2 linked regions of the Homo sapiens genome follow. The protein of the gene in region 1 binds, or shares a complex with, the protein of each later gene. Each region holds a gene or a part of one and is shown in the gene's direction. Other genes may lie near its edges.

Region 1 (5,507 bases):
TCACCGATGTCTCCCTCTGCCTTCACACGCCTTCTTCCCTCAGTGTGTCCCCTCCTCTTCTGATAAGGACACCCAGTCCCTGGATTTAGGGCCTACCCTAAATGCAGTATGATTTTATTTTGAGACCCTTATGCAACCCTCTTTTCAAATGAGGTCCATTCTGAGATTCGAGGTGAATGTAAGTTTGGGGGAACACCATTCACCCCACTACTGACCTTTGGGGACATATTGTTTCTCACTTAGACACATGGATACACTCTTAAAGAATGTATTTGGAGCCGGGCGTGGTGGCTCATGCCTGTAATCCCGGCACTTTGGGAGGCCTAGGAGGGTGGATCACCTGAGGTCAGGAGTTTGAGACCAGCCTGGTCAATGTGGTGAAACCCCGTCTCTACTTAGCTGGGTGTGGTGGCGCACACCTGTAATCACAGCTACTCAGGAGGCAGAAGCAGGAGAATCGCTTGAACCCAGGAGGCGGAGTTTGCAGTGAGCCAAGATCGTGCCACTGCACTCCAGCCTGGGTGACAGAGTGGGACTCCATCTCAAAAAAGCAAACAACAACAACAAAAAAGAACGTATTTGGGATCATTGTTTTTAGATAGGGTGTGTTTTTAAAATTTAGTATCAGTCATTTAACATTCACGGGCAGTTTTCCATGTTACTCTCTTTGCAGCCCTCGTTTTTATTGTCCTGCCATGCGAGTGGCAGATGGCCTCATGGTTGGGAGTGGGGGCTGCAGAGCCTGCCAGGGCTGGCCTTCCGCCCTTCTCTTTTGCTCACTGTTATGGGCTGAACTGTGCTCCCCTCCCTAATCCATATGTTGAAGTCCTAATCCCCAGAATGTGACTTTATTTGGAGATAGGGCTTTAAAGGGGTAATTAACATTAAACAAGGACATTGAGGTGAGCTCTAACCCAATCTGACTAGTGTCCTTGTGAGAAGAGGAGGTAAGGACACACGTGCACCGGGGAGACCCTGTGAAGACGCAGGGAGAAGGTGTGGTCTACGAGCCGAGGACAGCGGCCTCAGGAGAAACCAACCCTGATGGCACCTTGACTTGGACTTCTAGCCTCCAGAACTGTGAGGAACCCCTAAGCCCCTCGTTTCTTCCTCTGTCAAATGGGGGTCTTCAGAGCGCTGGAGGGAGAACTGAATGAAAGAATGCCCACACGCTGCCCAGCGCAGGGCTGGAGGGCACTGCAGCCGCGTTGGTACTAGCCGGGTTCATTTCCCCAGCCTCTGCTGCTGCACAGCGCACGATTTCTCTTCAGCCACTGGTAAACACTTACTGGGCCCCAGTCACAGCTCTTTTCCCTGTGATAGATGAGGCTCTGGCCAGTAGCTGGGCACACGATCTCTGGCCACTTTCTTGGAAGAAAGTTTTAGGTGCATTCTCTTTTTTTTTTTTTTTTGAGACAGGGTCTGGCTCTATCACCCAGGATGGAGTGCAGTGGCGTGATCTTAGCTCACTGCAGCCTCAACCTCCGCGGGCTTAGGTGATCCTCCCACCTCAGCCTCCTTAGTAGCTGGGACTACAGGTGGGTGCCACCAAGCCCTGCTAATTTTTATATTTTTAGTAGAGACAGGATTTTGCTATCCGCCCGCCTCAGCCTCCCAAAGTGCTGGAGTTTCAGGCATGAGCCACCGCACCCGGCCTTAGTTGCATTCTCCATCCTCTAAGTCACCTTTGCTGAGCCCCGTCCCAGGAGCACCCTGTTGCTGTGTGCTCCTGAGCCAGGCCCAGGGGGTCGTTGGCCGGTGGCAGTCAGAAGTCTGCCCGTGCACCCCATGTAAAGCAATCAGGCTTCCCACAGCCCAGGCGCACGAGGGCTTTGGGGGCGACATCCTCTCCTTTCTCCAGCCTGTCTGGGTCCAACAGCCACAGCTGCCTCCCAGTCACTGCAGCAGCACGGGAGATGGGCAAGGGCTCTCAGAGGAGGAAACCTCTGCCTGAGGGACTTCTGCACTCGTGGGGCATTTCACACCTGCCCCAGTAGGGAGTGGCCCTTATGCTCTTAATAAATAGTTCGCAGCCCCCTCCCCTCAGGCTTGCTGGCAGCCTTGGGATCTCGGGATCTCGGGGTCGAGTCCTGCCAGCCCGGTGCAGCCCCTGAGCTTCCTCCCAGCCGAAGCAGCCTCCTTCCCTCCCCCTCCTCCTCTGCCCTGGGTGCCCCCAGCACCGGCCTTTTTTCTTCTCTACTTTGAAGTCTGAGCCTCAGAGCCACTACAGGCAAACAGGATGTTCCTCTCCCACATGCAGACTTCACACGAGACGCTTGGGTCGCACCGCATCCTGCTTAGAGTGGTGGGTCCCATCTGCGTGGACCTGGGGTGGGAGTGGGTACAGGACTGAGGCTGGGTGCCAGGTGGGACCTTCGTGCAACTGGTTTCATTAGTCACATTTGAGCGTTCATTGCAGACTTTGAACTAGGTGAGCCTCTGAAAGTTTCCCCTTGGGGACTCTTGTGCCTGGAAGGGCTGAATAAGGCAGATGGTGACGCTTGCTTAGCACGTCGGTGGGAGGCCATGAAGGAGTAATGGCGTTTCTCATCCCCCACCTCAGCCCTGGCTATGATTTTTGTATTTTCTGGGATTAAAAAAAAGTTTGTTTTTTTTTTCTGTAAACCTCAGCAAATTACAATCACACCTGGAATTACAGGATGGCTACAAGATAGATGACTGCTCTAGTGTGGCACAGGACAGGGGCTTAAGGAGGCAGGGTCTTGCTGAGCAGCTGGAGGACTCGGGCAAGACTAGAAGGGCACCAGGGGATGGGCAGGCGCTAGTTTAACAGTTTAAAGAAAACCTAAAGTCCCAGGTCTTTCTCTGGGTTGTGGACTCTGTTTATAGCACAGTGACTCAGGCAGTTCTGCTGTGGTTGAAGCCATCTTGGGAAGATGAAGGTGTAAAATTTGAGGGTTCCAGTTCCCTCCTGAAGCACCTCCCATCCTCCAAGCAGATGTTCTGAGTCCTTTGAGTCCCTCAGATGTTTGTTTTATTTTTAATTTTTATTTTATTTCTTTTTTTTTGAGACAGAGTCTCACTCTGTTGCCCAGGCTGGAGTGCAGTGGTGTGATCTCAGCTCACTGCAGCCTTTGCCTCCTGGGTTCAAGTGATTCTTTGGCCTCAGCCTCCTGAATAGCTGGGACTACAGGTGTGTGCCACCACGCTCGGCTAATTTTTGTATTTTTAGTAGAGACGGGGTTTCACCATATTGGCCAGGCTGGTCTTGAACTCCTGACCTCAAGTGATCCACCTGCCTCCACCTCCCAAAGTGCTGGGATTACAGGTGTGAGCCACCGCCCCCAGCACCCTCAGATGTTTAATTTACAAAATAGTGTATGTGTGTTGGGAGAGGGCAGCCTTAAAAGATGTCAGGGTTTTACCATCCACTTGACAACCCCGCCTGGCAGTCAGTGACATTCTAGACATCTCTGGAACTTTCCACTTGGTTGTTCCGTGTACCAGGGTGAACCATGTGGATTTTTAGTTGCAGAGTGTACTGCGAGTTAAGTGGAAAGGTCTGAGAGAGAGAGAAATGAGGGGTGGGAAAGAGATCATAGCCCTTGACAGCTGGAAAAGGCTTTGTGCTTCTCTTTCTCTGCCCCTTTCCTGGGGCAAGGGAGGAGGGCAGATGGCACAGGATTGGGTAGCAGTGGGGGAGAATGAATGCTGGTCACAAGGACTGTGGCCCAGAAAAGAGGTTCAGTGGCGGCCAGAGGAAGCTACTGTGCCTGGGGACAGCCCTCTGAGCACCTGCCATGCCGGCGGGGGCAGCCGTCTAATCTGGGGCACTTCAGCTCTGTCGGGTGTCCTCTTCGCTCACCTGACATACCTTAGAGTTGTTTCATTCTAGGGATGTGCTCCCCAGCCTGTCTGATGGCACAGATGTTGGCATTCTGCAGCTGGCTGCTCTATTCTTTATTTGGGACCTGTTCCCTTGCTAAGATTATAGTTTTGCTGCCCTGCCCTGCAGTGAGCACGCCTCATTTTGACTCCTGGTACAATAATAGGTTTGTTTGAGATCTCGGATGCCAGACTTACTGGGAGTCTTAACAATGCTGGCATCATATGATATGTCAGTGATCTTTTTAACACCACTGTCTCTACAGAAATGGTTTCTATTCGGCTGTCTCAAGCTCTTGGAGAAATACATCCTTGTCTTATCTAGGCAAATAAAGTGGAGAGTCTTGAAGGACTTCTTGGTACAAGGGTCTGAATCAGTGCTGTGTGAATCTATATTTCCGTGGAAAATAAAGGCATATTTGTTCATGTGACTGTCTATATATTCCATTGAGATTATTGCATAATGACCAAAAATCTCCAGGAAATCTGCCTTGTCTAGCAGATGACTTATTTGAGCTTTCTTAGTGTGTTCTTTGCACATGTTAGTATTCTTTGGCACATGGTAGGTATTAATACATATCTGATGGGATGATTTATGGCCTGGATTAGCCTCAGCCTTCAGACTCTTTTTTCTTTTCCTCCTTAGATCTTTAATCTCATGAAGTACGACAGCTACAGCCGCTTCTTAAAGTCTGACTTGTTTTTAAAACACAAGCGAACCGAGGAAGAGGAAGAAGATTTGCCTGATGCTCAAACTGCAGCTAAAAGAGCTTCCAGAATTTATAACACATGAGCCCCCAAAAAGCCGGGACTGGCAGCTTTAAGAAGCAAAGGAATTTCCTCTCAGGACCGTGCCGGGTTTATCATTGCTTTGTTATTTGTAAGGACTGAAATGTACAAAACCCTTCAATGGGATGTGTGTTTTATTAACTGCTTCACCAGTAAATTTTGCATGATGGCTAAGCTAACATAAAAAAAGAATAATAATAACTTGGAAGTTTTAGTTTACAAAACAGAGATTCCTTCAACACTGGACACGTCGAGCATTTTGTAGCTTAATTAAACCTCATGTAAGGCCACAAGGTGAAACGTATCACACTACCTTTTACCTTGTAAGTGTTTGCTCTGCCTCTCTGGTGAGTGGACGCATGTCCACAGGTCACTTGGTAAATTAACTCAAACATGAGTTGATCCGGCAAACCCAGGCTACTGGGGGTATGGCCTGCCAGTCGCCTTTTGGGTTAAATATTTCTCGAGAGCAAGTTCAGTGCTGGAAAAAGAAAATGAATCACTGACAGCCTCTAAAGACTTGGGAAGCTTGTGTGTGAGTGTCATCAAAGGGTTATTATTTCTTGTGCGTGGGTTGGTCCTGGTTTTGACCACAACCCATGACATTTCATGCAACACAGATAAATAGTTCATCTTGACAGAAACAAGATCTCAACCAGGAAGGAAAAAAAACACAAGTGGGAAATTGTTCAGGGTCCCCATGGCAACTCAAGGTGTTGTTGAATGGGATTGTAGCACAGGTGCGTACTGAGGTTGGAGTTGGTGGGGCTGTTCCCTTCTCCTGTACCCATCGGGGACACATCATAATCCTTTCCTCTCTGCTCCTGCCCTTTGCTGAACTTGCTAACTCTGGCTTGAGACTTCAACGGGGA
Region 2 (7,104 bases), on another chromosome or scaffold:
TGTTTGACTTATTTCCGTGAATGCCATTTAGTGCTGCAAAACTTGTTGGTTTGTCTTTTTCATTAACTTAATCCACTTTTACTATTTGCTACTGACCTATCATCCTTTATTTCTTTTTCAGAACCGAATGCATGAAAGCATGAAACTGTTTGACAGCATTTGTAATAACAAATGGTTTACAGAAACTTCAATCATTCTCTTCCTTAACAAGAAAGACCTTTTTGAGGAAAAAATAAAGAGGAGTCCGTTAACTATCTGTTATCCAGAATACACAGGTAAGGGGTTATGAAAGATTTTATTGGAGGTACACATCTTACTTAGATCAACACTTTGGTGGCATTCATAAAACTGCCTTTTTTTTTTTAATGATTGATTGGGAGAGTATTCAGTGGTAGTGGCATTGGCATTAAGCCTGTGATTAAAAGCCCCTAAGTCAAGAGTGCCATATCAGACACAATTGAGTTTTCTGTGTTTATTTTAAATTTCTATCTTCATTTTTTGAGGAAAATACAAAAGGAGAAAAAGTAAATTTGGGAGCTGGGCATGGTGGCTATAATTCTAGCTACTTGGAAGCTTGAGGCAGGAGGATCATTTGAGCCCAAGAGTTTGAGATCAGTCTAGGCAACATAGTGACACCCCCCTGCCTCACAAAAAATAAAGTAAAATTTGGTATATGTTGAAGAAAATACAAGGGTAAATTTTAATCATTGTGCCCAAGAGACTGACATGTAGTTGCAGAGAGACATAAATAATTTTATTATAGTGTTTAATTGCACATAAATAATTTTATTATAGTGTAAAATATGCATTAATAGAAGTGGAATAGAAGTGGTTACTTCTGATGGGGTCACTGTAGTCTTTTTCTAGAGCTACTAAGAGGATGAAATAGAAATCATCAGGCAGACGGGAATAAAAGCATTTTAGAAAAGAGGAATTGCATATATGAGAATATGGAGGTAGGAAAATGGTATGACCAGTTGTGGAACCCAGAAGGAATTTGGTATTACTAGAGTTTACAGTGGCAGGGAAGAAGTGGTTGGAGAGATGGTCAGAGATCAACTCATGGAGGGCCTTATATCTCATGCTGAGACGATGATCAGTTAAAGGTTTAATATCCTACCATGATCCATATCATGGGGTGCATGATATAGAAGAAACTGTGCTTGAGAAAGATTATGCAATAAATAATAAAGATAGATAGTAGGGGATTTGAATTAGTAAGAACTCAGGATGGAAATAAAAACTTTTGATGGGGATTAAGGGATATATCATAGAACCCAAGGGCAAGAATGGACAGGTCTTAGAATGGAATTAGAACTAGGAAATAATTGTCAGGAACCCTGGAAGCACTCTTTATCCCCATCTTTTTTCTCTCCTCTCTGTGTATCTTTTTTATTATTCTTTCTTTCCTAACCAGCTTTCTCTGCTATTCAGTTTATGTGATAACAGCCTAGTCACAGTTTCTGTATCTCTGGTAAAAAGATCAGACTAGGCTGGGCGCGGTGGCTCACGCCTGTAATCCCAGCACTTTGGGAGGCCGAGGCGGGTGAATCATGAGGTTAGGAGATCGAGACCATCCTGGCTAACACAGTGAAACCCCGTCTCCACTAAAAATACAAAAAAAATTAGTTGGGCTTGGTGGCAGGCACCTGTAGTCCCAGCTACTCGGGAGGCTGAGGCAGGAGAATGGCATGAACCCGGGAGGCAGAGCTTGCAGTGAGCCGAGATCGCGCCACTGCACTCCAGCCTGGGCGACTGAGCAAAAAAAAAAAAAAGATCAGACTAGACTGGGATTGCTTGGCCTTGGTTTCAAATTCCAAGGAGAGAGATTCTGGCCGTGGTTAAGTCAGGCAGAAATCTGTAGGCCAATCAGTTGAGGTCAGGGGCACAAATGTAACTGCCAGGGATGGATCACTATGAAACTTATAGATCAGAATCAGGTATTTCCAGAGAAGGGGAACTCTTATTAGCAGAGACACTGTAAATGCTTTCTATAATAAAGTGAGGCTGGGTGCAGTGGCTCATGCCTGTAATCCCAGCACTTTGGGAGGCCGTGGCAGGTGGATCATGAGGTCAAGAGATCGAGACCATCCTGACCAATGTGGTGAAACCCTGTCTCTACTAAAAATAGAAAAATTAGCTGGGCATGGTGGTGTGCGCCTGTAATCCCAGCTACTCGGGAGGCTGAGGCAGGAGAATCGCTTGAACCCGGGAGGCGGAGGTTGCGGTGAGCCGAGATCGCACCACTGCACTCCAGCCTGGTGACAGAGTGAGACTCCATCAATCAATCAATCAATCAATCAATCAATAAAGTGAAGGGGTAAAGCAGGGGTAAGGAAGTGGGAAGAGTCAGAGGTACTCCCAGGTTTCTGTCTTGGATGCTGGTGCTGTGACCTGAATTCATGTATAGGAATGTTGATTTTTAATTATTCATAGAACGTTGAAATAATATCTCATGGACAGTTATATTCGAGGTTGAGGAGAGGTTGGGGTTTGAGATCATCAGTAGTGAAAACATGGAAATGGGTGAAATGACCTATGGAGATAATATTATAGAATGAGGAGAAAAAGGACCACAGGTAGAACGAGAGAGAATAGCAGCCTCTATTGGCAGGAGAGGAAGAAAGATATCATAACCAAAAGGAGAGGTTAAAAAGTGAGTTGATTAAATATTTCAGTCAACAGTGTTATCTGCAGATAAGTAAGATACATACTGAAAAAGAGCCTTTGGAGTTAACAGTTAGGAGGTCGTTGACCTGCTGTTGAGAGCAGTGTCAGTGGAAAGTTGAGTACAGTGAGTTACAGAATGGAAAGTGAAGAAAGAAGACAAGTGTAGACTACTCTTGAGCAACGTGGGTTTAAAGGGAAGGGAGAGATTTAAGAATGTTTATAGGCTGAGGGCTAAGATCCTATAAGCAAAAGAGATACATTAAAAAACAGATGTAATTGAAGGAGCAAGATTTGCAAGCAGGTGGGAAAAAAGGAATTAAGAGTCTAGGTAGGATAAATGGATAAACAAATTGTGTTATATACATACAATGAATATTACTTACCCAAGAAAAGGAATAATAATAGATGGTACAACTTGTATGAAACTCAAAACACTGTGCTAAGTAAAAGAGGCCAATACTTCTATTATATGATATATCCAAAATAGGGCAATTTCTGTCCATAGAGACAGAAAGAATATTAGTGGTTATGAGAAGTGGGAGAATGGGAAGAAAAGGGAGTGATTACTTAATGGGAATAGGGTGTTGAAAAAGTTTTGTCACTAGAGAGAGGTGGTGATTGCATAACATTGTGAATACACTAAGTGCCACAGAATTGTACACTTTAAAATGGTTAAATATCTGTTATGTTAATTTTCCTCAATAATTTTTTTAAAAGAGTATAGGTAGAGCAATTGATTTTTGAGCAAGAAGTAAGACACCTCTAAGACCAGAAGTACAAATAAGTGCAGATATGTAACATTTTGAGTGAGGTGGTAGGCCAAAAAGTTGAGATGTAGTTTAATCCTCATGGCCTCTGTTTTATCAAGGAAGTTGGAAATGTGGTTACCTGTTCAGAGTAAAGAACAGAGGGAGGTGAGAATAAGGTGAGTTTATAGAAAGCAACCAAGTTTTAGGATTGGGGGAGAGAGATGTAAGACAAGTAAAATAATTGGCATTAATGTTGAAGGCCCAGCTTAGAGTCTTCACACAAAGCAAAGAGCCTTTAATATCATTTCCATTTTCTTTGTTGTTGTTAACTTCCAAGCCTATCCTCCATTGTCTTCATTCTGTGTACAGATTCTTACGGTCCTTATTTGCCAGGTATTATTATCTGTTCCTAGCAGACAAAATTCACTTTTCACTCATCTGCCTCCTTTAATTTACAGAGGTTGTTTTCCAGATTTTAAGAACCTGCTTCAAGCACCTACAAAGCTGTTTTCCTTCAGTTCTTTAAATATTTTAATTAATATTCTTTTCCTTTCCTTTTTTTTTTTTGAGACAGTGTCTTGCTCTGTCTCCCAGACAGAAATGCAGTGGCATGATCTCGGCTCACTGCAACCTCCACCTCCCAGATTCAAGTGCTTCTTGTGCCTCAGCTCTACTACAGGTGCCCACCACCAGGCCTAGCTAATGATTTTTTGATTTTTAGTAGAGATGTGGTTTCACTAAGTTAGCCAGGCTGGTGTTGAACTCCTGACCTCAAGCGATCCACCTGCTGCGGCCCCCAAAGTGCAGGGATTACAGATGTGAGCCACCGCACCCAGCTCCTTTTTTCTTAAGCTCCGTTTTGTTACCTGGTCTTCTTTATATCTTTGTTATTGATATTTTTGTTATGCTTCACGTTACTGAAAATAGCCTGTAGTTTATTGGAATAATGAATTGTCTTTGTTGCGTTTCCCTGGCTTTATAGCCAGTTTCTAAGGCTACTCTAAAGGTTCTATAAGTAGACAAGATGGTGTAAAAAGCAGGTGATTTAAGGGTATTAATTACAAATATTGTTGAGACAGGCTTTGCTTTTGGTTCCTGTCACCTTTCTTTTTGTAAAAAATAATAGCTTCATTGAGATATAATTGGGAAACCCTAAAATTCACTCTTTTAAAGTGTATTGCTTTTCCTTATTTAAATTATTACCTTAAGGCTTTGAAGCTAAACCTCTTTAAAACTGTGGAATGATTTTGAAAAGAACAATTTACCTTGTTGAATTCCTTTTTTTTTTGTTTTAATACAAACAATCCCATAGCGTTTATTGCCATCTTTTAGTAACATAAGGGTAATCAAAACACTATGAATGAATGTTCATATTGGAAAAAGGACATCTAAAAGCAAACTGTATCCTTCTCAACAATTTCTCACTTCATTGATCCTTTCTAGTTGGAGACACTTTGTAGCAGAGTAATATTATCTCCTTTTAGCATGATCCGACCCAGTTGTTTTAAAAAATATGGAACGCTTCACGAATTTGCGTGTCATCCTTGCGCGGGGACTGTGCTAATCTTCTCTGTATTGTTCCAATTTTAGTACATGTGCTACCAAAGCAAGCACTACCCTGTTGAATTTTTATTCCAAGATCACTCCAAGGAACACAGCCTCTCTCAGACCTTTTAAGCAGTTGTGTTCCCTAGAAATGCACCTTCCTACTTTCCTAGTTTCCTTTTATACTTTCTAGATTTTTTTAGCTGAAAAGTCTAAATGAAAAGGTAAAGAGAAATTTAACGTTATGTTTTCCTCAATCTTTGTGTTTGATGATTTTATTTTGTTACCATGAGAGTCCACTCTCACGAAGAACCTAATTATAGAAACACCTAATGATTATAGAAATAGAGAATTCTACTCATATTTAATTGGGTTATGTTCCCTCTCCATAAGTAAATGGTAATGGTCTGACTTAGTTGAGTTCAGGCAGCTGTTACAATTTGAACTGAGAGTACTGGGTGTCCGTTTTAGGTTCCAATACATATGAAGAGGCAGCTGCCTATATTCAATGCCAGTTTGAAGATCTGAACAGAAGAAAAGATACCAAGGAGATCTATACTCACTTCACCTGTGCCACAGACACGAAGAATGTGCAGTTTGTTTTTGATGCTGTTACAGATGTCATCATTAAAAACAACTTAAAGGAATGTGGACTTTATTGAGAAGCATGGATGTTAGTGAAAGGTAAAGTTTCATACAAGGTAGTTATAGTGCTACAGTGATGTCTCTTGGTTTTTAAACTTTTTCTAATTAAGAATATTCTTCTCTTCTAGTTACTACAGTGTGGAGTGTTGAGACCAGACACCTTTTGCTGTCTCATGGGGCAGCTACAAGCATGAACGGGACCAGGGAATGGCAGCAGCATGCAGAATCTTAGCACTCTTTAGCACAATATTTTGTATTAGGGAACTTTTAATTGACATGAGATGCTAAAGTCAGACATTGGAATTGGAAGAACTATAAAGTGTGATTCGATCGTCAAGACATCACTTGGATTTCTTAATCTTAAATGCTTATGGAAGATGTGAAGTTGAGGTGCTGCATTCTAGAACTTCAATATGTAGCTTACTCTTTTTTTCCCCCCTTCTTAAACCACCAGTGGTTCATTTTTAAGGTTTTTTCATCAAGAGAAGAATAACTTTACTAAATTTTATTTCTTTATTTGCAAAAGAATCTTTATTAAAACAAACAATCTTAACTATGCACATGATGTGACCAGATCATCTTGAAAATATTCCTCTTTAGTAGGAACTCTTTGTTTTTAACTCTTGGTATGGTCAGAATATAATACTTCCATAATTACTTATAATTCTTTCCGGTTACTGGGGCTATAAATACAACTTTTTAAATGAAATTTATGTTATTATCCTGCTCAAAGTACCATTATGGTTTCCATATGGTAATTACATTGGAAAGTTCTGCAATAAGATTCTAGTTCTCTCTTTTCTTTAAGCTTATGGTTGAAGGTTAACCTTGTTTGTGCAGATTACCAAATTACTGCTGATGTAGTATGATAAAGTCAGCTTCTTGGATACAGACACACCCAGGGCAGCTGCCAATCAGAAATGCAAATTGCTAAATTCCAAACAGAACCAGTGACTTTGCTGCTACATATTTACTAAATTGACCACTTTGATTCTTGCTTGTTTGTCTCAGTTATAGGGAGTTTTGTACATGGTGCCTCTTGTTTTCCATCTTCATGGCCTTTTCTGTTGAGAAACATCTAAAGTGTATTAACAGTGCATGCTTTTACTTTGTAAATGTGGTGCCAAATCCCTGTTTGCCATCGTTTTTACTGTACCGATGTTAACTGTAGTAATCCTTAGCCAGTATGTTCTTTTGCTGAAACTGTTGCATTTTGGGACTTTTTTCCACTTTGTCATGTGTACATTTTTAATCTGTTATAGTTGGCGGCAGTATTAAAATGGTGAGTAAAGAGCCCAGGTTTGCTCCTGTTTGTAACTAGTCTTTTCTGGAAATACTGTCTTCTGTTTCCTTTTGCCTTTGCAGAATGTGCTTTAGCCTTTGTCTGAGAATGGGTTTAGGTAGAAGGGTTTCCTGAAAGTCTAGTCTTTTGGTGTAATAGTATTGTTGAACCTTAGGTTTTATGTTATATCTGCATATGAGTGATATGTGATCA

What was found.
Region 2: the proteins of RGS10 (region 1) and GNAI3 are in contact, whole or in part, in a crystal structure (PDB 2IHB), measured with the Homo sapiens proteins. Residues at the interface, in NP_001005339.1 of Homo sapiens: Glu62, Phe63, Ser64, Glu66, Asn67, Ala102, Ser103, Ser104, Gln105, Val106, Asn107, Val108, Glu109, Gly110, Leu137 (codon at 4,502), Lys139 (codon at 4,508), Tyr140 (codon at 4,511), Asp141 (codon at 4,514), Ser142 (codon at 4,517), Arg145 (codon at 4,526); in NP_006487.1 of Homo sapiens: Val71, Val72, Ser75, Glu115, Val179, Lys180, Thr181, Thr182, Gly183, Ile184, Val185, Gln204, Ser206, Glu207, Lys209, Lys210, His213, Ala235, Glu236.

Annotation. Positions count from the first base shown.
Region 1 is NC_000010.11:119,499,245-119,504,751, reverse strand, and holds the end of RGS10 (regulator of G-protein signaling 10), read left to right. Parts: intron 1-4,492; coding exon 4,493-4,639; 3' UTR 4,640-4,935; downstream 4,936-5,507. UniProt on the Homo sapiens protein: Regulates G protein-coupled receptor signaling cascades, including signaling downstream of the muscarinic acetylcholine receptor CHRM2.
Region 2 is NC_000001.11:109,586,608-109,593,711, forward strand, and holds part of GNAI3 (guanine nucleotide-binding protein G(i) subunit alpha-3), read left to right. Parts: intron 1-121; coding exon 122-275; intron 276-5,435; coding exon 5,436-5,626; 3' UTR 5,627-5,648; intron 5,649-5,737; 3' UTR 5,738-7,104. UniProt on the Homo sapiens protein: Heterotrimeric guanine nucleotide-binding proteins (G proteins) function as transducers downstream of G protein-coupled receptors (GPCRs) in numerous signaling cascades.